Homo sapiens: one gene and its partners. The protein of the gene in region 3 binds, or shares a complex with, the protein of the main gene of each other region. Each region holds a gene or a part of one and is shown on either strand. Other genes may lie near its edges. The genes, in order: ZBP1, MEFV and CASP8.

Evidence for each region.
Region 1: CASP8 (region 3) and ZBP1 share a complex: the UniProt entries of both Homo sapiens proteins name them as parts of the AIM2 PANoptosome complex.
Region 2: CASP8 (region 3) and MEFV share a complex: the UniProt entries of both Homo sapiens proteins name them as parts of the AIM2 PANoptosome complex.

Annotation. Positions count from the first base shown.
Region 1 is NC_000020.11:57,616,067-57,625,296, forward strand, and holds the start of ZBP1 (Z-DNA-binding protein 1), read right to left. Parts: upstream 4,361-9,230; 5' UTR 4,230-4,360; coding exon 4,196-4,229; intron 403-4,195; coding exon 178-402; intron 1-177.
Region 2 is NC_000016.10:3,252,965-3,262,561, forward strand, and holds the start of MEFV (pyrin), read right to left. Parts: upstream 3,670-9,597; 5' UTR 3,624-3,669; coding exon 3,347-3,623; intron 1,827-3,346; coding exon 1,194-1,826; intron 1-1,193. UniProt on the Homo sapiens protein: Involved in the regulation of innate immunity and the inflammatory response in response to IFNG/IFN-gamma.
Region 3 is NC_000002.12:201,283,382-201,289,181, forward strand, and holds the end of CASP8 (caspase-8 isoform 2 precursor), read left to right. Parts: intron 1-1,434; coding exon 1,435-1,936; intron 1,937-3,077; coding exon 3,078-3,213; 3' UTR 3,214-4,328; downstream 4,329-5,800. Other genes in the region: FLACC1 (flagellum-associated coiled-coil domain-containing protein 1), read right to left, coding at 5,274-5,400. UniProt on the Homo sapiens protein: Thiol protease that plays a key role in programmed cell death by acting as a molecular switch for apoptosis, necroptosis and pyroptosis, and is required to prevent tissue damage during embryonic development and adulthood.

The DNA of each region.
Region 1 (9,230 bases), on a different chromosome or scaffold from region 3:
CAAGCAGCCCTGCTGTGAGCTCCATCAACCAGAAAAAGAAACCAAGGCACAGAGAGAGGAAACCTGTGAGCTCCCATGTGGCAGAGTTCAGATTCGAACCCAGGCTCAAATCTGTGCTTGTCCATTGCCAGGATGCTCCCTGCAGGGTCAGACCCGCCTCCCCGGGGTGGCAGTTACCAGGGCTGGACAAGGCCAGCTCTGCAGGACCCTCGCCTTCAGGATCAGTCCCGCCCAAGCACCAGGTGGCAGGGGATGTGAGGGAGACTTTCAACTCCTTTTTCATTCGGTAGAGGACTTGGTTGAGCTCCCTCTTGGGTGCTTGGCATTCCTTCACCAGCTGGGCAAGTTTCACCGGGGAGCCAGCCTCTGTCAGCACCTGCAGGATTCTTTGTTCAAGGTGGCCTGGGGGAGCGAGCGGGGGACAGAGAGGGGAACTGAGTCTCCCAGGTCCCCACAGTTGAGCCCAGGCTGGAGGCTCCAGGAGGCACGTAGGCCCCTTTTTGAGAGGGGTCCAGGGCAGAGGAAAGGGCAAGGACCCCAGCAGATGCCCCCTAAGAGCAGTAGGGCAGCTGCATCTGCCCAGAGGGAGGCATGCAGGCTGATCAGAAACGGCCTTGGCTGCGCAGCCTGGTGGCCAGGGGAGGTGCCACCTCGCCTGTGCCCTCCCCGGGTGTGGGTTCCAGAGGGCAGTGGGGTTCCTCAGCTCTCAGGTGTCCTCAGGGCAGAGGGGAGTAGAGGGCAGAAGGACGGAGCCAGAGGGAGGCAGGGGGACCTGGGAGCGCAAAGGCAAGTCCTGCCTGGGACGCCTGCCTGGGTTTACCTGATGCCCATCGCCATCCTCCCCGGGAGTGCCCTCCTCTCAGCTCACCATCCATCCATGGCGCCACTATCCATCCAAGCCAGAGACCGACCAGACATCAGAAACAGACCTTTCCCCCAGTGCCCAGTCGTGGAGCCCTGGAAATGCCATTCCTGGATTCTCTGGAATCCCCCCACTCCTCTCTTTTCTGCCAGCACCACCCCCTTCCTCTTCACCATCTCCTAGGTACAGTGATAGGCTCCCCGTTGGCCCGCCAGCTCCAGTCAGGTACCCTCCAGATCTGGCTCTGCCAACCACCCAGCTTGGCCTGCACCTGCCCCCAACTTCCCTCCAAGTGCTGGCCTGTCTGTGCTCCCTTCAGCCCCACTCTCCCCAGCCCCTTTGTGCACACTGTTCCTGCTGCCAGGAGCACCCTTCCCTCACGCCCCAACCTGTATGATGTCTACTCAACCTCCAGGCCTCCTCAGATGCCACTTCCTAGGGAAAGCCTGTCTCTGTGTCCCAGAGTGGCTGGGACGCTGCTTGTGTGTGGGTCCCCTGCAGAACTTCCCCTAGTGTCCCCTGCTGTGCTTGCATGGCTCACTGTTGTACCTTCAGCATCTAGCACAGTGCTGGGCACACAGTAGGTGCTCAGGAAATGGCAGTTGAATGTATGAGTGACTGAGTGAATGAATGAATGAATGAATGGGGCCAGGAGTGGTGGCTCACACTTGTAATCCTAGCACATCAGAAGGCTGAGATGGGAGGACCCCTAGAGGCCAGGAGTTCTAGACCAGCCTGGGCAACATAGTGAGACCCCCATCTCTACAAAAAAAGAGAAAAATCAGGTAGGTACGATGGCATATGCCTGTAGTCCCAGCTGCTTAAGAGGCTAAAAGTGGGAGGATCGCTTGAATCTAGGAGGTAGCAGTTGCAGTGAGCTATGAATGCACCACTGCACTCCAGCCTGGACAAGACCCCATCTCTGGAAAAAAAAAAAAAAAGGACTGAATGAGTGAGTGTCTGTCTCTAGGGACAGACGTTTACCCAATAGACCCTGGGCAGGGCCCGGGTAGCTTCTCCTTGGCCAGTTGGCAATGTGCTGCTGTTTCCTGGCCTGAGTTTAATGAGGACTAAGCAGGACCCCAAGAGGTTCAAGGAGGAATTCTCCAAATGGCCCCTGCTCCTCCTGAGGCAGCTCTTAAAAATCAAAACCATTAGCTCACACAATGATTAAAAGATCAAAGCCAGCTGCTCTGCCCAGAGATGAGGCTGGGGCAGACGCAGGTTACGGGCAGCACCTGGCAGCCAGCAGCCTGGGAGAGCCACTGTGGGCGGGGGCCCCACCTGTCACCAGGAAGCTTCTGCTTCAAGGAACCTGAGGGCAGTGCATGGGAGAGCCCTTCTTGGAAAGACCTGAGTTCCCCTTCCAGGACAGTGACTCAGTCCTTTGTCATCTGGGCTTTCTTTCCTGTTCAGAGGATTCTCCAGGTTTGCCCAGGGTTCCTTGGTCACAGCACTTGTAGGGGAGGGAAGAATCAGTTTGTGCCTCACCCTGATGGTTACAACGCTGACCGGCTTGCCGTGTGCAGGTGAAGACCAATTAGAAGACCTGGGAATTCCCACTCCTGCGCCCACCAAACTCCCCCACCGGCAGCCAGCAGCACCTCCATGCACCTGACTTCACACCTGGCTTCACCTTGTCTCGCAGAGTTTTTTGTTTTTTGGTTTTGAGATGGAATTTCGTTCTTGTTGCCTGGTCTGCGGCTGCAGTGGTGTGATCTCGGCTCACTGCAACCTCCACCTCCTGGGTTCAAGCAATTCTCTTGCCTCAGTCTCTCAAGTAGCTGAGATTACAGGCACGCACCACTACACCCGGCTGATTTTTGTATTTTTAGTAGAGACAGGGTTTCCCTTTTTGGCCAGGCTGGTGTCAAACTCCTGACCTTGGGTGATCCCCGCAACTCAGCCTCCCAAAGTGCTGGGATTGCAGGCGTGAGCCACTGCGCCTGGCCGCAGTTTTGATTCTGGAAGGCTGACCTTAGGGAGCCACTGCCTCGGCTCCACACACCCCAGAGGAGATGGGGGTCAGAGGTGTGGATGCAGGACAAGCACTGGCCCTGGGCTGGCCTCGACTGCTGAGTCCCAGGCTACTGTGTCTGAAAATGGGAAATTGTAAAATGGAGCAGGTGTAGGCAACAATTTGGTCACAAAAGGAAAATCAACTGGGGAGGAAGACAAGAAAAGCCAGCGAGGGCTGAGTCCGGAACCTGCGTCAGCACCCGTGAGTCCCCGAAGAGGAAGCTCCACAGGACCTCCGCGGTCAGCCCGGCTCCTGGGCCACACCCTGACATTAGCCCTCCCGGGGCACACTCTGTGTTGGTTTTTTAAAATTCTGATGGCTGATTTCCTGGGTTTGAGCTCCTAGCCCTGCCAACTACTAGCTGTGTGACCTCCCCTCCGGCTTCAGGTTCCTCTTCTGTGAAATGGAGACAGTAATAACTACTTCAAAGATTGTGGTGAGGATTAAAAACAAAACAAACACATCCCCCAAACCGCAAAACCACACTTCACCTACAGTCCACAGCGCTTAGTGGAGACCCTAGAGAACAGCAATTACTCGATACACTATTGGCTTTCATTGCAACTCTTCCAGGAATAAAATGAATGAAATGTTAGTTGAGGAAAGGATGCAACAAGGGGGAACAAAGGCACACATGTATCTCATCAAAGCAAACCGCTTTGTTCTCGATATGACTGTGACATGGGTGTTCAGACGCTAACACCAGCGTTCGCCAGCTGTGTTACCCTGAGAGTGTCATTTCACCTCTCAGGGCCTCAGTTATCTATAAAATGGGAATGACATGGCACTTGTCCCTGCAGGCCATCAGGAAATGCTTGGAAAGCATGTTTCGAGGTGCCTGGGGCACAGTCAGCTGTCAAAGGGGGATGGCTATGCTGTCCCTTTCTATTTTTTTTTTTTTTTTCTGAGATGGAATCTCACTCTGTCACCCAGTCTGGAGTGCAATGGCGACATCTCAGCTCACTACAACTTCCACCTCCCGGGTTCAAGCGATTCTCCAGCCTCAGCATCCCGAGTAGCTGGGATCACAGGCATGCGCCACCATGCCCGGTTAATTTTTGTAATTTTAGTAGAGATGGGGTTTCGCCATGTTGGCCAGGCTAGTGTCAAACTCCTGAGCTTAAACAGTCCACCTACCTCGCCTCCCAAAGTGCTGGGATTACAGGCGTGAGCCACCACGCCCAGCTGGTCTACTATTCTTTAGGATACTGCTATTGTCATCATGATCTGGACCAAGCGAAACAGGAGGAAAGAGAAGTAGAAATCTCACCCCGGGAGCTACCGCTGGTCCTTGGAAGGAAGAAGTACTGTACCTTCTCTGCCCGGGTCAGCAGGAGCCTGGGCCATGCTGACAGCAGCTGCAAGGAGTCGGAGAGACTTGGCAGGTGTGCAGGCTTCTGCACTGTGGCCCTGAGAGGGTGGGCTAGGTCGAGGCTGGGGCTTCTGAAGTGGCCGAGCCTGGTGCTTCTTGCAGCTCTGAACCCACAAGGGGAGGGATGCCAGCTTCCACTGGGCAGGTGTCAGCTGCTTACAGCCCGGAAATAGATGCCTAGCCAGGCCGGCCAGATTCGGTTTCAGGAGAAAAAGAAAATGAAACTTCTCTGTTCGTCTTTTGAAAGAAAAAAAAAGTGGAAGCCAGGTGGATGAGCAAGACAGAGTTGGGGACCTGACTTGATGTTGACAGGGAGGAGCTGTAAACTTGGCAAGACCAGAGCGTCCTCCGAAGAGGCCTTTGAGACAGAGGACTTCCCTCACCTTCCCCGTTCCAGGCACAGCCCACCTGGACCTCTACATTTTTATTTTCTGAATCAGCATCAGAGAACTGAAGAAAATAAAAATAAAAAAAAGAGCATGCACCACGTGGAGGGGGATGCCAGGGCGTGGCATCACTCTGATGATGTGAGGGGCTGGGGCTGGTTATCTGGTTTCTGTGTTTTTGTTTGTTTTTGAGACAGGGTTTCTGTCATCCAGGCTGGAGTGCAGTGGCGTGATCACGGCTCACGGCAGCCTCGACCTTCCGGACTCCAGCGATCCTCCCACCTCTCAGCCTCCCTAGTAGCTGGGACCACAGGCCTAGACCACCATGCCCGGCTAATTTTTGTATTTTCTGTAGAGATGGGGTTTCATCGTGTTGCCCAGGCTGGTCTCAAACTCCTGGGCTCAAGCGATCTGCCTGCCTTGGCCTCCCACAGTGCTGGGATTCCAGCCGCAAGCCCCCACGCCCGGCCCCGCTGGTTCCTGTAGTACTTCCTCCTCGGGGACTCACAGGTGCTACAGAGGCACCGTCCCCAGCTCTCAGTGGCTTTTCTTGTCTTCTTCCAGTTTGTTTCCCTTGCCCACACTAGGGGCAGAACATTTAGGTGCGTGAAGGCCCTGAGATTGTTCTTGTGTGTATCCATGTGAGCCTCTTTAATGAACACCTATTATGCGTTTTCCAATCTCAAGTGCTCCTCCAACCCATCTACAGGGTAGGGGCCAGTTCTGTCTTCTTCTCAGGGGGGAAACTGAGGCTAGAAAGGCAAGATCACTTGTCCAAGGCCACACAGAGTCCATGACAGAGCTTGTCCTGTCCATTCCCCAATTGTGTTTCCTGATCTATAACACCCAGAAGTCACTGGTGAATCACCCTTAGTGCACAGATGGCGTGGAGTTCCCCGCCTCATCATAAAACTTGCTTATTAATTCCAGAGTCAGATGCCTGGGGTCAGCAGCCGAGTGGTTCGGAATGCAAGCCTGGGTCAGCATGCTTGGGTCCAAACCTGGCTCCGCCATTTACCGGCTGTGTGACCTCGGACAAATTATTTAACCCCTCTGTGCCTCAGTTTCCCCATGTGTAAAAGGACTTAATCAAAGGACCTAGCGCATGGGGTCGAGGTGAGGACCTAAGGGGCTGATACAGCCCAGCTGTCGGGCTAGAGCCCCAGAGCCATCCGTAGTCACGGGCACCGTGGTCACCTCACAGGAATGCTTCTGGGAGAGGACCCGTTGCTTACATAATTCTCAAAAGGGCCAGTGACCTCAGAAAAACTCAGAGCCACTGTTCTCTTCCAGATCACAGAAGGAGGAACTGAGGCCCACAGAGGTGAATGCTGTGTACAAGGCCCCCCAGCTTTTGGCAGCCAAGGGGGTTGAGAGCTCAGCCCTGGAAGTCCCTGGACTTGGGGTCTGTGTCTCATCTGCAGAGGGCTGGGAGGGCTAGAGACGTCTGTGCTCCTTGCAGACCCCATTTATGCATAAGGAGCAGCTTAGCGGCAAATACAAATGGAAAGGGGGTCCGGAGGTTTATCCTGAAGCTATCTGTCTTTGCAGAGCGAGCACCTGGAGCCCAGGTCTTCCGCCCTGCCTGCATGTTAAGTGTTTGAAGCAAAAAAAAAGTCTCAATGCCCAGGCCGGCCCAGACTAGTCAACTCCAACCTCTGCGGCTGGGGCCCGAGGGTGAGATTTTTTATGCTCCTGGGTGACTTTTCCTGCTTCCAGGTGGAGAACCAGTAAGTCTGGGGCAAGTCAATAACAGCAAACTGCAGGATGCTTTTATTCTCCTTTTATGTAAAAGCGAAAACTGCAGGTATCACCCTATGAAATAACAATAGTGCTCTTTAAATGGGGGGGTAGGTGGGGTGCTGAGGGAGATGATGAAGGTGCCCTCCGGAAGGGGCTCCGGCTGAGCCCTGCAAGGCTGAGTCCCTTGGGTGTCTGGGGTGCCACGCCCGAACTGGCCACCAGGTGATGCCGCTCACCAACCTGGGCTTGGGCGCACCTTGGCTTCAAGTTCCCTCTGATCTGCAGGGAGGAGCTCCTACCCCAACCCATGGTTGGACTCCAGACTTGATGAATCACAGCTCCAAGACGTGCCCACCCCTCCCACTGCCTTGTCCTGCATCATCCTTTATTCTTCCTGTCTCTTCAGTCACTCATCGTGGTTTCTTCACTCATCTTTCCTGGAAGGAGTCAGATTCCAGCTGTTTCTCTGTGAAGCCTCCAGGCAGTTCTTTGTGCTCTTCCGGCCTGGCCTCCCAGTGTTGGTCTTGACACAGCCCACCACTCCCCCGTGGGGAAACTCTCTCTCCCCCCATCTCCAGGGCCCATGCTAGCTTCTCCCCTTCCTTCCCTGGCCTCTGCAGCTCAGGCCTTGACCCCAGGTCCCTGGTGGGCTTGCAGGTCAGGTTGAGGGATGTTAGCTTGGTCTTGGGTGCCAGCCTTACTTCTAGGAAGATGGCTTCTGCTGCAGGGAGGAGGCTGGTGCCCCTCACGGCTGGTCTCCATCCAGACTGTGCTTGGATGACCCCTTTCTGTCCCCGTGGCCACATCCTGAAGGCACATGGAGCCCCTCTGGGCCTGAGCCATTTTTAGGAGTCTGTAGCAGGGACCACCATGCCAGTGGAGACCAAGCGCCTCGGGAAGTTCCCTGGACAAGGATTCTGTCTTGTCTCTTCTCCAGGGCAGGTTCTCCTTCCCAGCTGTGTGGCGCTACCTCTCTGAGCCGCGGTTTCTTTAACTATAAAGCAGAGATACTAAGAAAAAGCATTTTTGACACTTAGTATGTGCTCACAACATTTGCATAAGTTAGAAAACATGATGCATCTCCACAGTATCTCTTTAGACAGCAAACAAACAAAAGAGAGCAATAGACAAAAAGAAGAAAACATTTCACGTGGGTAGGTTCCACCTTTCTTTGCATTCCATGGCACATCTGGAGATGAAGCCAGGAATCTGCTATGTGCTTGTCACCCACTGAGTGGGAGTCTTACTTTTAAATACTTAGATTGCCTTTATTTCTCTTCTCTATTTAAGAGCTGTTTAAGTTGAGTTTGACCCTAAGGATTATCTTTAAGCCTAAATACCAGTGGCTAAAACAATAGAGTTGTGTCTTTTTCTTGAAAGAGTTGTAGGCATTCCAGGTTTAGTGTGGTGACCTGGGGTCCTTCTACATTGTCGGTCTGCCATTTGTGGCCTTCATTCTCAAGTTTGCCTTACATTTTAGAATGGCTGCTAAGCTCCAGCCATTACATCTGCATTCCTTCCAGCAGGGAGTAGGAAAGGGAACAAGGGCAGATATCTCCCTTTAAGCACGCATCTTACAAGTTGCACACACATTCCACTAATACCCCATTGGTCAGTCTTGTGGCTCTTATCTGTAAGGGGAGGCCTGGAAAGATGGTCTGTATTGTGGGTCACCATGTGCTCAGCTAAAATTGGGGTTCTATGACTTTAAAATGGGGGACAGTAGATATTGGCAGAGACCTAGCTATCTCTGCCATTTCAAGGTTCCCTGGTGTCCCCAAGAAAGGAGCAAAGATACCTCCTCTGTGCCTTCAGGTGTGTCCATTCACGGGGTTCATTTATTCAGCAGTTGCTGTGCCTCCTTACTCTGCCTGGAAAGGGCCTCAAAGGCCACAAGACTTCCAAGATGGCACCACTGCCTGCTGGAGTCCTCATCTCCTTTTGCCTTGGAAGGCGCACTCCCTGTTCATGGCTTGTGTTTTTCTGGAAACTATTAGAGCTCTCCGCCCAAACCAGATGATAATTACATGTTACTGATCTTGAGTCTTTAAATTTTTCTCTCTCTCTTTTAAAAGAGAGATATTTTTACTGCACATTGTGTTGACAAAACCCAAGTCTCCCTTCTACCAGGCAGCCTGGATTTTATTTTCAGATTTCCTCTGTGAATTCATGCAGGGGGAGGAGGTGGAAAGGTACTGAATGTGAATAATAACATGTCTTTGGTCAGGGACAAGGGTCAGAGAACCAGGGGTGGCTGAAGAGGGGAATGGAGATTGCCCAAGGTCACAAAGTCATCCTCCTGGGGTGGAATGAAGACTGAGTAAAACTGGTGTGTCCAGGAAAGCAGGTTTTCATTGCAGTCCCTAGAGGAGTCTGCCCTGGCCCTGTTCTCTGCTCTTCCAGGCAGAGCTGTTGATGGGGCCTCCATTGTTTATCTGTATCCATTGGAGTTGAAGAGACCTGGGGTTCTGGTCTTGGCACCCAGCTTTTTAACTCTGTGCCTTGAGCAAGTTACTGCTCTGTCTGAGGCTCAGTTTATGTCTTTGTAAAGGGGGTCATAGAAGTACTTACCTTGTGGGATTGTTGCACAGGTTAAATGGGATTGTGTACCTGTAGGTCCTAGTAGAGCACTGGGCACATAGTATGTGCTCAATAAACAGGAGCTAGTCATGTTATCACCATGTGATGCTCAGCTGTCCCTCTCTCTGGTAATAAAGCAATCCTATTCACTCACCTGATCATTTGCCAAATACTTTCTCATGCCTTCCTTTTATCGGGCCACATGCTGGGCCCTGCAGGGCATGGGAGAAACGTCTCTGTCTTCGTCTGTTTTCTGCTGCTATAACA
Region 2 (9,597 bases), on a different chromosome or scaffold from region 3:
AAAAAAAAAGGAAAGTGTGTTTCTGAATGCTGCCCCCACCACGAGCATGGAATTGTCACCTGGATAGCCTCGGTACCCTCTAAACTGGTGGCATTTTTCTTTTACAGTTTTTTTTTAGTCTCTTTACCTATAGGGACAGCTGCTTAAAAAAATCCAGATGGCCTGGAGCCTCCTGATCCCTTGCCAAAAACCAGAGGAAGTTAAGATCAGAGCAAAACCAGTGCAAACTGGAAGAGGTGACTTCCAGTTACCTTAAGATCATTTACACATTGTTATAAGGCTAAAGGTCCCTCCCCTAAAAGAAGATGGCCAGGGTTTTGTGTCCATGCGATGTAGGAAGAAGCATGCTGGGGACAGCGCCTGCACATATGGAACCCTGCCCTGGGCCTGCTTACCTATCTCCCTTCCCCTCCCTGGACTCTAAAATCGCCCTGCCTCCCATCCCTGGCAAGCAGACGCCTGCAGAGGTGAGCTCCCCTTCTCCATTCTTTGGCCACTGATAACACCTGATTGCCTTTTTCAATCGGACATTCTTTCTTTCTTTTTTTTTCCCCCCAAAATGTTTAAGAGACAGGGTCTTGCTCTGTTGCCCAGGCCGGAGTGCAGTGGCACATCCTCAGCTCACTGCAGCCTGGAACTCCCTGGCTCAAGCAATCCTCCTGCCTCAGCTTCCTGAGTGGCTAGAATTACAGGCGTGTGCCACCATACCCAGCTAATTTTTTTTTTAGTTTTGTAGAAGTGGAGTCTGGCTACGTTGCTCAGGCTGGTGTGCAGTGGCATGATCTCAGCTCACTGTAGCCTGGAACTCCGTCTGCTCAAGTGAACCCGAGCAGCTGGGACTACAGGCGCGTGCCACTATTGTATTTTGTAGAGATGGGGTCTCACTGTGTTGCCTAGGCTAGTATGGAACTCCTGGGGTCAAGAGATCCTCCCGTGCAGGCCTCTCAAAGCTCTGGGATTACAGGCGAGAGCTACCACGCCCTGCCCAACCTTTGGGTTTTTATTTTTTTAATTTCGTTTATAGAGATGGCGGGGGTCTCACTACATTCACCAGGCTGGTCTCAAAGTCTTGGCCTCCAGCAATCCTCCCGCCCTGGCCTCCCAAAGCGCTGGGATTACAGGCATGAGCTATCGTGCCCGGCCAGCCATTCTTTCTCTGCAGCCGATATAAAGTAGGAAAGAACACAATTTACCGGTGACCGAATGTTCTGGATTTCCAGGGCCTTCCTTCAGGTCCGCAGATGCCCCTCCATCCGGAGTGGGCCTTGCCCGGGGTTCTGTTGCCGAGTCCAGATTCGCAGCTGTCTTTTCCTCTAGAGTCAGGAGAATTTCTGGATTTGCGGGCGCCTTCTCCCCTGTAGAAATGGTGACCTCAAGGCTTCTAGGTCGCATCTTTCCCGAGGGCAGGTACACTTCGAAGGGCCTGCACTCCTTCTGCCCCGGGGCGCCCCCCGCCAGCCCCTGCAGCCTCCCCGCGGAGCTGGCGTTTCTGCGCAGCCGGACCTCGGCCTGGCCCCCCTCTAGCGCCCTGCAGGGGCCGGGGCTTCTCCCGCCCGGCAGGGCCGGGCTCCGGGTCCGAGGCTTGCCCTGCGCGTCCAGGCCCTCCGAGGCCTTCTCTCTGCGTTTGCTCAGGGGCTTCCTCGACAGCCCCCTCCCGGCCTCGGGCTGGCTGCACCGCAGGCTGGCAGCTCCGCCCCCGTACGGCCGAGGGCCGTTCCCCTCGTTCCCCTCGGGGTGGTCTGGAGTCTTCAGGCTCCTGGGCTTGTTCTCCCCCAGGGAGCTGGACGCTGCGGAATCATCTGTGCCGTTTTCTTGTGTGGAATATTCTGGAAGGACAACCAGATGCAAAATGATGAAGCTGTCCCACGTTTAGGGCCCAAGATTCAGGGCAGAGGAGAGAGAATCCCCTTGGATATTAAAGTTTAGAAATTGAGGAAAACAACGGGCCGGGCGCGGTGGCTCATGCCTGTATTCCCGGCACTCTGGGAGGCCGAGGCGGGAGGATCACCTGAGATCAGGAGTTCAAGACCAACAGGGTGAAACCCCGTCTCTACTAAAAATACAAAAATAAGCTGAGCGTGGTGGCGCATGCCTGTAATCCCAGCTTCTCCAGAGGCCAAGGTGGGAGGATCATTTGAGGTCAGGAGTTCGAGACCAGCCTGGCCAACATGGCAAAACCCCGTTCCTACTAAAAATAAGAAACTCAGCCAGACGCGGTGGTGCGCACCTGTAGTCCCAGCTACTCGGGAGGCTGAGGCATGAGAATCGCTTGAGCCCGGGATGTGGAGGTTGCAGTGAGCTGAGATCGGGCCACTGCACTCCAGCCTGAGTGACAGAGCAAGACTCCATCTCAAAAACAAAAGTTCAGGACTTCCTAGACTAGACAATGGCAGTCAATTACCATTCAGTAAGAACATGCTTGATGTTGCTATGTATTTCTCTCTCTCTTATTTTATTTTTTGAGACAGGATCTTGCTCTGTTGCCCTGATGTGATCTCAGCTCACTGCAACCTCTGCCTCCCAGGCTCAAGCAATCCTCTCACCTCAGCCTGTTTTCTGTTTTTTCAATAGCTGAAAATACAGGTGTGTGCTACCACGCCTGGCTCATTTTTTTGTATTTTTGGTAGAGACAGGGTTTCACCATGTTGCCCAAGCTGGTCTCAAACTCCTGAGCTCTAGCAATCCACCCACCTTAGCCTCCCAAAGTGCTGAGATTATTTATAAGTGTGAGCCACCATGCCTAGCCTATATTTCTCAAATAGTACTTTTCAAACGTTTTAAGCAGGACAACTGTTTCAAATAAGATCTTACACAGGTCAGCAAAACCCAGATTATACGCTTTAAAAATAAAAATAAGCCGGGCACGGTGGCCTATGTCTGAAATCCCAGCACTTTGGGAGGCTGAGGCGGGAGGATCACTTGAGGTCAGGAGTTCGAGACCAGCCTGGCCAACATGGTGAACAGCACTGAGAAGATTCTATACCAACCCCGTTCATATGATTGCATAGCAATCCCTTTTTGCTAACCTAGAGATGTTTGTCTGACATGAGTATTAATCATAAATGTAGTGAAGAAGTCTCAAAGAACAGGTGTTCCAGCTCCTGCCTTTCGTGACCCTGACCTGCTTCTTAAAAAACCCATTAGGAGCCTGAAGGAAGTTTACTAACCCAGTTCCAAAGGCCAGAGTGAAGAAAGGGACGTTCCTGAACTAAAGTCATCTGGATTTTGGTAGACCTGAGACTCCCAATCCCCAGGTCAGAGTGAGCTGCTCTGAGCTCCTGGTCCCCTTTCCCACAAAGCAGCCAGCACTCAGCACTGGATGAGGAGGAGGCCTGGGCCCGCTTACCCTGAATGGCTGCCCTGTGGAGCTCCTCGGCCAGCAGGCGCTGGTTGATGGCCCGCAGGACCTGCAGGGTGAGCTGCACGGCGTACTCTTCCCCATAGTAGGTGACCAGCAGAGTGGCCATCTTCACCGGCCTGGCTCTCTGGATCTGGCTCCGGGGGATCCTGGAGTGCTCCTTCTGCACACTGGTGTTCTGCAGCTTGAACTTGAACTTCTCGAAGTCATAGGGCACCAGCTCCTCCAGGGTGGACAGCAGATGGTCACTAGGGGTCTTAGCCATGGTGCTGAGCAGGAGAGGCTCGAGCCAGCTGTCTGGCTTCTGGTAGGAAAAGAAGCCTCTGTCCTTGGTGAGCAAGAAAAGGCAGGTTGTGAAATAGCGGAAAAGGCACAGGAAATGCTCTGTGTCTTGGTGGGAACTGAGACTAAGGGTAAGGGTGTGTCCATGCCGGCTGTGTTCTCTTCTTACAGGTTCAGAGGATTTTCCAGCTGGGAGGGCTCCATGCCTTGGCAGACATGTGCCCCCACACCCCTCCCAAACCCTGGACCTCGCCTCCACACTAGACCACAGACAGATGGGCAAGTCTGCAAGGGAAGGTCTGGGATTGGATTCCAGACACCCCCTCCAATCTTCCTTCCTGCCAGGATCTGGGGCTGGCAGAGCGGGTGAGTGGGAACAGAGAGGACTATGCTGAGGGCCCGCCCTGCTGGTCAACTGTTCTCCTCCAGACTCGGGGTTTCAGGGACCTTCCAGAGCCAATGGCACAGGACGGGGGAAGGGGTGGGCACTGAATACAGTCCTGTGAGCTTTGCCTTTCCTGGCCCAAGAAGGCAAGTGAGGCCAGAAGGGCACTGCCAGGAGATAACTCTTGCCATGCCATCACCCCTGTTGATCCGGTTCCAGTTGACTGGTTCTTCCAGCCACATGAAGGACTTGAAAAGCAATGCCTGGACCACCAGCCTGACTCATCTGTTCCCAGAGCTGACTCAGTCCTCGCTCCCTGGAGCCAGAATGCTCTTCCGTGCACATTCATTGAACATTCTAGACAGTGTGCCAAGATGCTGGAGCTACACGGGTGAAAAGGCACGGGTGTCCTTCAGCTCATATGTGGTGCAGGGCCCCAGAGGTGGCTTTGAAGCTAACAGAAGTTACATGTTGGGGGCAGGGCACAGTGGCTAACGCCTGTAATCCCAGCACTTTGGGAGGCCGAGGTGGGTGGATCACCTCAGGTTGGGAGTACAAGACCAGCCTGGCCAACACAGTAAAACCCCATCTCTACTAAAAATACAAAAATTAGCCAGGCATGGTGGCACGCACCTGTACTCCCAGCTACTCAGGAGGCTGAGGCAGGAGAATCACTTGAACATGGGAGGCAGATGTTGCAGTGAGCCGAGGTTGCGCCATTGTACTCCAGCTTGGGCGACAGAGCGGGACTTTGTCTCAAAAAAAATAAATAAATGAAAAATTACATGTAGGGTGAACTGACTCCTCACTTACCTACTTCTGACCGTTGCATACCCTAATTTTTTTATTTTTAGATAGGGTCTTGCTCAGTCACTCAGGCTGGAGTGCAGTAGTGGGATCTTGGCTCACTGCAACTTCTGCCTCCTGGGCTTGAGCAACCCTCCAACCTCAGCCTCCCAAGTAGCTGAGACTACAGGTGCATTCCACCACATCTGGCCAATTTTTGTATTTTTTATAGAGACAGGGTCTCACTATGTTGCGCAGGCTGGTCTTGAACTCCTGATCTCAAGCGATCCACTCGCTTTGGCCTCCCAAAGTGCTGGGATTACAGGTGTGAGCCACTGCGCCCGGCCAGAAGTTTTGTTAATAATGCAATTTACCCTTCACCAGCACTTCCTCGGCACCAGCCACCACTAGCTTTATAAACACTTCCTCCTAGAATCTCTGCAGCACCCTGCAGGGCTGCGTTTATCATCCCCCTGTGCAGCCAAGAATCTGTAGCTTAGTGACTTGCCTAGAGCCAAGATCCAAACGTCAAACCACTTCACAACATCGTCTCCTGCATGACAATAATTTGTGATTTTACTGTTAATGACTACCCATGGATGTCACATTTCCAGCTGACCACTGAGGTCCAGGATGGGTCACTTCCACAGGTCAGTCACAACATTGCGACGCCTAGCTGAACACCCAGCTCTGGGTGTGAGCTCCTCTGTGTGTGCCCAGCCTGGGATTCAAGGCTTTGATGAGTTCTGGTTGGTTGAATTTAACTTACTGTCCAGCTGGTCCACCTGTTTCCTATTTCACAGAGTATTTGGTGTTTTTGCATTGTTTTCATAGCTGACAACAAACATGCAGTTTGCTAGATCTTTCTGAGCCCAAACCCAACATCTTCCCTAAAAAAAGGGTGAATTGGGCTGGGTGTAGTGGCTCACACCTGCAATCCCAGCCCTTGGGAGGCTGAGACAGGAGGATTACTTAAGCCCAAGAGTTTGAGATTAGCCTGGGCAACATAAGGAGACCCTGCCTCTACAAAAAATAGAAAAAATATTAGCTGGGTGTGGTGGCACACACTGGTGGTCCCTGCTGCTACTCAGGAGGCTGAGGTGGGAAGATTGCTTGAGCCTAGGTTCAGGCTGCAATGAGCTGTGATTGCACCACTGCTCTCCAGCCTGGGTGACACAGCAAGACACCCTGTCTCAAAAAAAAAAAAAAAAAAAAAAAAAAAAAGTGGATGAAATGCACATTGATGGTGCAGACAGCAGATTTTTGGAATTTTTAGGCTGGGCCAGAAGAAGGGTGTTGAATGGGGTATCACTGGGGCCAGCACCCGTCCCTGACTCTGGACGGTGGCAACCCAGCACCTCCCAGGCAGTCTCCCACTACCAGATGGAGAAAGGATGAGACTGTGCAGTGACGCTGTGGGTGCTGTGTGATCCCATCTCGTCTGGTCAGAAAACTCCTCGGAGCTGATACCAAAACCCCATGACAGAATTGGGCAGGGAATGATACTTTCTGGTCTAAAGCAGGATATTTTGCAATTGCGGTGACACGTTTTGCAACAGAGGCTGCTCTGAGGCAGGACTTCTGGAAGGCAGTGTTTTGATGCCACTTTGGACTTTCTAGGGCAAGGCAGGCTCACAAAGCTTTTGTTTGGAGGGGTTCCAGTAATTTCTCACAGTGAAAATAGAATTATTGCCCTTCTAACGTCATTTAAGTGTTTAATAATCAAAGTGGAATGGTCATGGGCTGTCTTGTGTGCCCCTGCCATTGGATGTGTGACCTTATTTGGGGTGACATGGCAAATCTAAACCCAACAAAGCTGCTGCAAAGGGTCTACTCTCGGCTATTACTCCTGGGAAATGTGCGGCTCAGACACCACGACCTTCACTCCACTCCTGGTCACCAGGGGTTTCACTTTCTATGGCATTTACTTCTGCACATTTTGGGATTTAAAAAAATGAAGATTGTATTACTTTCGTAATAAGCAAAAAAGATAGTTTTAAAAAGTCTTTCAGACCAGGTGTGGTGGCGCACGCCTGTAATTTCAACACTTTGGAAGGCCGAGACAGGTGGATCACTTGAGGTCAGGAGTTCCAGACCAGCCTGGCCAACACGGCAAAACCTCGTCTCTAATGAAAATACAAAAATTAGCCAGGTGAGGTGGCCCGCGCCTGTAATCCCAGGTACTCCGGAGGCTGAGGTAGAACTGCTTGAACCTGGGAGGTGGAGGTTTCAGTGAGTCGAGATTGCATCACTGCACTCCAGGTTGGGCAACAGAGCAAGATTCCGTATTTAAAAAAAAAAAAAGTCTTTCACAATTAGCTTAACTTCTAAGGGAGTATCAGTCCCGTGCCCCTAAACCATCATGATAAAGGAGGTATATAGTATTTACTTATTTATTTACTTGATTTATTTTGAGACAGAGTCTCACTCTTATCACCTGGGCTGGAGTGCAGTGGCAAGATCATGGCCCACTGCAACCTCCGCCTCCCGGGTTCAAGCGATTCTCCTGCCTCTGCCTCCCGAGTAGCTGGCATTACAGGTGCCCGCCATTACACCCAGCTAATTTTTTGTATTTTTAGTAGAGACGGGGTTTCACCATGTTGGCCAGGCTGGTCTTGAACTCCTGACCTTGTGATTCGCCCGCCTCAGCCTCCCAAAGTTCTGGGATTACAGGCGTGCGCCACCGTGACCAGCCAACTATTTTTTCATAGATGATGAAATGTAGGCTTACAGGTAGGGTGACCAACACATTTTGTCTAGGAGCAAAACCCAATTTGCCCAGTCTTAGCACTGAAAGCCTAGTTCTGGGAACGACCACAGTCCGGGGAAATTGGGACAATTGCCCACCCTGTTTAGATGGGTTAATTGACATACTGAACACATGTCTAGCTAGGAAGAGGCACCACAGGGCCATTCATTTACTCTTGGAGCACCTGCTGTATGCCAGATGCTATTCTAGGTACTACTGATACAGAACTGAACAGAAAAAAACTTCTTGCAGTGCTCACATTCTTTTTTTTCTGATATAAATGCCCTTCAGAAGAGGCCACATTCTTTTTTTTTTTTCGAGATGGAATTTCACTCAGTCGCCCAGGCTGGAGGGCAGTAGCGCAATCTCGCCACTGCAACCTCTGCCTCCAGTGTTTGAGCGATCCTCCTGCCTCAGCGTCCCAAGTAGTTGGGATTATAGGTACCGACAACCACGCCTGGCTAATTTTTGTATTTTTAGTAGAGACGGGGTTTCACCATGTTGGCCAGGCTGGTCTTAAACTCCCGGCCTCAAGTGATTTACCCACCTCGGCCTCCCAAAGTGCTGGGATTACAGGCGTGAGCTGCTGCGCCTGGCTCAGAAGATCCCGCATTTTTTTTTTTTTGACGGAGTCTAGCTATATTGCCCAGGCTGGAGTGCAGTGGTGCTATCTCAGCTCACTGCAAGCTCCACCTCCCGGGTTCACGCCATCCTCCTGCCTCAGCCTCCCGAGTAGCTGGAACTACAGGCGCCTGCCACCACGCCCGGCTAATTTTTGTATTTTTAGTAGAGACGGGGTTTCACCGTGTTAGCCAGGATGGTCTCGATCTCCTGACCTTGTGATCTGCCCACCTCGGCCTCCCAAAGTGCTGGGATTACAGGCATGAGCCACTGCGCCCAGCCAAGAGCCCACATTCTTATAGGAAAGTGTGAATTGATATAAACAAACAAATACACAATGTATCAGGGAGTGATAAGTTGGGGGAAAAAACAGCAGAATAATAGGGTTAGTGAGTGCAGGGGATTGGTTTCATATTTTTTTATTTTTATTTATTTATTTAGAGACAGAGTCTCACTCTGTCACCCAGGCTGGAGTGCAGTGGTGCTATCTTGGCTCACTGCAACTTCTGCCTCCCGGGTTCAAGCAATTCTCCTGCCTCAGCCTCCCAAGTAGTTGGGATTACAGGCTCACACCACCATGCCAGGCTAATTTTTGTATTTTTAGTAAAGACGGGGTTTCACCATGTTGGCCAGGCCAGTCTCAAACAACTGACCTCAAGTGATCCAACCGCCTTGGCCTCCCAAAGTGCTGTGATTACAGGCATGAGCCACCGTGCCCCCTGGTTTCATATTTTAATAGGGCACTTGAAGAAGGCTTTTGTGCTTGAACAGAGACCCAAAGGAAGAGGAGTAAGCCAGGTATTCATTTTGAGGATGAGCAGTCTTTGCCTATTTACAGAGTGCAAAAGGGGTAACTTTGTGCTTAGTGTTTGAGGAAGAGTGGTGGCTGGAGCAGAGGCACGGAGGAGGAGTGGATGGAGGGGTTAGAGAGGGAGCTGGAGTCCCCTATCAAGTAGCAGGGCTCCCAGGACACAGCAAGGACTTGGCTCTTACTCTGAGATGAGGGGACACTGGAAAGTTTGAGCAGAGCAGTGACATAATTGGAGTTACGCTTTAAAAGAAACATTCTGGGCCGGGCGCGGTGGCTCACACATATAATCCAGCACTTTGGGAAGCCAAGGAAGGTGGATCACCTGAGGTCAGAAGTTCGAGATAAGCCTGGCCAACATGGTGAAAGCCCGTCTCTACTGAAAATACAAAAATTTGCTGAGTGTGGTGGTGATGTGCGCGTAGTCCCAGCTACTCTGGAGGCTGAGGTGAATCACCTGAACCTGGGAGGCGGAGGTTGCAGTGACCTGTGATCGCACCACTGTACTCTGGCCTGGGTGAAAGAGTGAGACTGTTTCAAAAAAAGAAAGAAAAGAAAAGAGAACACTCTGGCTTCCATAAGAGACAAGAGATGAGAAAGGTGGAAAC
Region 3 (5,800 bases):
GCCAGGCGGGGGGCTGACCCCCCACCTCCCTCCCGGACTGGGCGGCTGGCCGGGCGGGGGGTTGACCCCCCCACCTCCCTCCTGGACGGGGCGACTGGCCGGGCAGAGGGGCTCCTCACTTCCCAGTAGGGGCGGCCGGGCAGAGGAGCCCCTCACCTCCCGGACGGGGCGGCTGGCCGGGCGGGGGGCTGACCCCCCCACCTCCCTCCCGGACGGGGCGGCTGGCCGGGCAGAGGGGTCCTCACTTCCCAGTAGGGGCGGCCGGGCAGAGGCGCCCCTCACCTCCCGGACGGGGCGGATGGCCGACCACCCCCCCCCGCCTCCCTCCCGGACGGGGCGGCTGGCCGGGCAGAGGGGCTCCTCACTTCCCAGTAGGGGCGGCCGGGCAGAGGAGCCCCTCACCTCCCGGACGGGGCGGCTGGCCGGGCGGGGGGCTGACCCCCCCCACCTCCCTCCCGGACGGGGTGGCTGCCGGGCGGAGACGCTCCTCACTTCCCAGACGGGGTGGTTGCCAGACGGAGGGGCTCCTCACTTCTCAGACGGGGCGGTTGCCAGGCAGAGGGTTTCCTCACTTCTCAGACGGAGCGGCCGGGCAGAGACACTCCTCACCTCCCAGACAGGGTTGCGGCCCAGCAGAGGCGCTCCTCACATCCCAGACAGGGCGGTGGGGCAGAGGTGCTCCCCACATCTCAGACGATGGGCGGCCGGGCAGAGACGCTCCTCACTTCCTAGATGGGATGGCGGCGGGGAAGAGGCGCTTCTCGCTTCCTAGATGGGATGGCGGCCGGGCAGAGACGCTCCTCACTTTCCACACTGGGCAGCCAGGCAGAGGGGCTCCTCATATCCCAGACGATGGGTGGCCAAGCAGAGACGCTCCTCACTTCCCAGACGGCGTGGCGGCCGGGCAGAGGCTGCAATCTCGGCTCTTTGGGAGGCCAAGGCAGGCGGCTGGGAGGTGGTTGTAGCAAGCCGAGATCACGCCACTGCACTCCAGCCTGGGCACCATTGAGCACTGAGTGAACGAGACTCCATCTGCAATCCCGGCACCTCGGGAGGCCGAGGCTGGCGGATCACTCGCGGTTAGGAGCTGGAGACCAGCCCGGCCAACACAGCGAAACCCCATCTCCACCAAAAAAAAAACGAAAACCAGTCAGGCGTGGCGGCGCGCGCCTGCAATCGCAGGCACTCGGCAGGCTGAGGCAGGAGAATCAGGCAGGGAGGTTGCAGTGAGCCGAGATGGCAGCAGTACCGTCCAGCTTTGGCTCGGCATGAGAGGGAGAGGGAGACGGGGAGAGGGAGAGGGAGAGGGAGACGGGGAGAGGGAGAGGGAGAGGGGTCAAATTCTTATCTATCAATGTTATGCCCACTGTGCTCTCCAGCTGTGGTCTGTGAATTACTGTGGTATAACGTGACTGTTCAAATTTCACTTTTCAGGGGCTTTGACCACGACCTTTGAAGAGCTTCATTTTGAGATCAAGCCCCACGATGACTGCACAGTAGAGCAAATCTATGAGATTTTGAAAATCTACCAACTCATGGACCACAGTAACATGGACTGCTTCATCTGCTGTATCCTCTCCCATGGAGACAAGGGCATCATCTATGGCACTGATGGACAGGAGGCCCCCATCTATGAGCTGACATCTCAGTTCACTGGTTTGAAGTGCCCTTCCCTTGCTGGAAAACCCAAAGTGTTTTTTATTCAGGCTTGTCAGGGGGATAACTACCAGAAAGGTATACCTGTTGAGACTGATTCAGAGGAGCAACCCTATTTAGAAATGGATTTATCATCACCTCAAACGAGATATATCCCGGATGAGGCTGACTTTCTGCTGGGGATGGCCACTGTGAATAACTGTGTTTCCTACCGAAACCCTGCAGAGGGAACCTGGTACATCCAGTCACTTTGCCAGAGCCTGAGAGAGCGATGTCCTCGGTAAGTTTTGCCTACTCAGCCCTCCTCACTGTTACACTACCTTCCCCCCCTACTCCATCACACTACTATCTACTCATATTCAGAGCCTATTAGAAAGTGCTATGTGATTTAGATCACATTAACAGGTCAGAGAACTGTCCAAGGGGAGTGGTTTCCGTTCAACTCTAAATGTCTAGCTGTAGATCACATAGCTGCATTTCCCAGGTCAGTTACAAAGTGGGAGAGTGGCAAGTGTTAACATCCTTAGTTTATAGATGGAAAAGCTGAGATGCTTTATTCCTTTATTCAGCACCTCAAAGGACAATCAGGGTATCACAGAGCAGGAAAGGATAGGAAAGTCATATACTCCAGCTCTCTGTCTTTAGGCCAAAACATGACTGAGCCAATTCAACTAGTTTTGGAAATCTTCCAAGAAGGCAGTAACCCAATTCAATGTTTAAACATCCTCCAACTCTGTCAAAAGTTCTATAATAGCAAACCATCCTCAAAACCTCTTGGTGCATTATGGGAGATAAATAGCAGGTTCCTTCTAGCCCTGTATTTCATGTTTTGAGTATATGAAGAGTGAGAATTTCCCGTAACTTAGATCATGAATCTAACTTAGATTTCGTAACTTAGATCATGAATCCTGCAAGGTTTCCGCGGCTAGCTACCAAGGTAGAAGAAGAGGTTGCCTAACAAAAATGCTAAGAGATCCTGGTGAGAAGAAGGTGGGAGTAGCTGCAGGAGACGTTATACTTTCACTTGCCTTAAGTTTAATTGCATCAAAGATGAATCCGCAGATGCGATGTCAATTCGAGGCAGAGAGTATTGGGGGGCATTGAAGCAATGGGGAGCCAAGTAACGTGGAGAAGAGTGAGAGACACACAGGTCAGGAGAGAAAGAAACCAACTCTAATACTGACACCGAGGTTTCTGATGGTCAAAAGAGTTCCTGAATAAACCAAAAGTAAGTTATTAAGCTCTGAGACAACCCATTTACCAGGAAAGCTGGGGTAGGTCTTGGTTTCGCACCTTATTGTTTCAAATGACTGATATTTTGAGAGAAAGAACTACAGAACTATCTCTGAGCACAGCAGAGGAGACAGTTCATCAGTTGCTTTCCCCCACAGACAGTCACAATATTATGTGATGTATTTCAGAGGCGATGATATTCTCACCATCCTGACTGAAGTGAACTATGAAGTAAGCAACAAGGATGACAAGAAAAACATGGGGAAACAGATGCCTCAGCCTACTTTCACACTAAGAAAAAAACTTGTCTTCCCTTCTGATTGATGGTGCTATTTTGTTTGTTTTGTTTTGTTTTGTTTTTTTGAGACAGAATCTCGCTCTGTCGCCCAGGCTGGAGTGCAGTGGCGTGATCTCGGCTCACCGCAAGCTCCGCCTCCCGGGTTCAGGCCATTCTCCTGCCTCAGCCTCCCGAGTAGCTGGGACTACAGGGGCCCGCCACCACACCTGGCTAATTTTTTAAAAATATTTTTAGTAGAGACAGGGTTTCACTGTGTTAGCCAGGGTGGTCTTGATCTCCTGACCTCGTGATCCACCCACCTCGGCCTCCCAAAGTGCTGGGATTACAGGCGTGAGCCACCGCGCCTGGCCGATGGTACTATTTAGATATAACACTATGTTTATTTACTAATTTTCTAGATTTTCTACTTTATTAATTGTTTTGCACTTTTTTATAAGAGCTAAAGTTAAATAGGATATTAACAACAATAACACTGTCTCCTTTCTCTTATGCTTAAGGCTTTGGGAATGTTTTTAGCTGGTGGCAATAAATACCAGACACGTACAAAATCCAGCTATGAATATAGAGGGCTTATGATTCAGATTGTTATCTATCAACTATAAGCCCACTGTTAATATTCTATTAACTTTAATTCTCTTTCAAAGCTAAATTCCACACTACCACATTAAAAAAATTAGAAAGTAGCCACGTATGGTGGCTCATGTCTATAATCCCAGCACTTTGGGAGGTTGAGGTGGGAGGATTGCTTGAACCCAAGAGGTCAAGGCTGCAGTGAGCCATGTTCACACCGCTGCACTCAAGCTTGGGTGACAGAACAAGACCCCGTCTCAAAAAAAATTTTTTTTTTAATAAAACAAAATTTGTTTGAAATCTTTTAAAAATTCAAATGATTTTTACAAGTTTTAAATAAGCTCTCCCCAAACTTGCTTTATGCCTTCTTATTGCTTTTATGATATATATATGCTTGGCTAACTATATTTGCTTTTTGCTAACAATGCTCTGGGGTCTTTTTATGCATTTGCATTTGCTCTTTCATCTCTGCTTGGATTATTTTAAATCATTAGGAATTAAGTTATCTTTAAAATTTAAGTATCTTTTTTCAAAAACATTTTTTAATAGAATAAAATATAATTTGATCTTATTGCTCCTTGGAGATTTTTTGTGTTTGGTTTTGGTTTCTGCCAATGACATCTCACAGGTGGAAAACATCTGGACTACAGACATGTTCTACTTGAGTCTCCCATGATCGGCACACACAGTTGTATTTTTAAAATTTGTTGTCAATGTTTAAAAATTAGGAGATATCACATAAAAACCAGAATAACTTCTTTTAAAAAATCATACTATCTGACAATATTGACCTCATGCTTTTGCATGGCAAAGGTCTGAGAAGCACCTTCTTCAGATGGGACAGTGCTCTGTGGGTCACTCTTCCCCATCCGCTGTGCCCCAGCCCTGCCCAAGCCCCTCTACTGAGGCTGCTGTTGGTTGCCACTTATCACTGTGCTTGGGCAATTGTTTTCCTTATGTCTAGCCCACTTCACTTATTTATGTTGCCTGCACTGTGGGTGTCTGAATTCTGGTGATGGTCCAGAGGAGGTGGTAAGAATCATCAGAAACCCTTCCTAAGTCATAGGTTAGGGAACATGATTGAGAGGTAGGGAAGTAGGGGGCATGGGTGTGAGAGAAAAATATTTTAGAGTAAAATCAACACATCATCTTTTTTTGCTACCTAAATGCCCCAGGGGACAAAGGTACACCTCCCAAATATAGTAAAAGTTCAATATGAAGAAGGCCTTCAAATCAGTTTCTTTCTAACGAAATACGTCAAGGTAGAAGAAAAATAGTACAAAACTCAGAGAAAGCTCAGCTCCCAGTATGGAGAGCATCATTTTTCAGTGAAGAGTCCGTGATAAGCTGTGAAATTCAGATGCGAATTCAAACATTTTCAGACATTCAGAGAGTCAGAGCAACCCAAGAACTAAACTCATTATATGCATTTTCTCAAGAAAACCCTCCCAGGAGTTTCCTGGGCCTACAGAAATGGTGTGCCAACCATCTTCAACAATGCAGAGCAACTTTTTGTTTATGATTCTTGTCCTTTCTTGCTACCATCTTGCACAGTGTCAGAATCATCCTTAGAAACAGTAATAGAGGCCAATCTCCCAGAACATCCTTCACAAATTTCTTCATTCTTAGAAATTATCTTTTGCCTGTAAAAAGAAAGGAAAGATGTATCAATGTCAACTCAAAAGCTAGAAAGGGTATAGGATATTTGGAGTGCAGGGAGAGAAATGTGCCTTCGTTCCTTCACCACAGCAGTCTCTCACTCATTACTTGCAGTGGTTTTGAATTTAGTGAGGTATGGTGTTCAGGTGACTAAAGTCCTATACGAGGAATTTTCTACTAAATCAATGCAATAAATAACTTTCTTCTATTAAAGTATTGACCAAAATTTATTTTAATGATTTAAGATGCAGCTTCAGGTAACAGTACACCTTCTGATCCAAAGGTGATTTCCATAGGAACCAGAAGCAGCTGCATGTAATGGCAAGACCATCAGACTCCCAGGGGAGATGGATTTAAAAACCACCCTCAGTCATAGAACTGAGC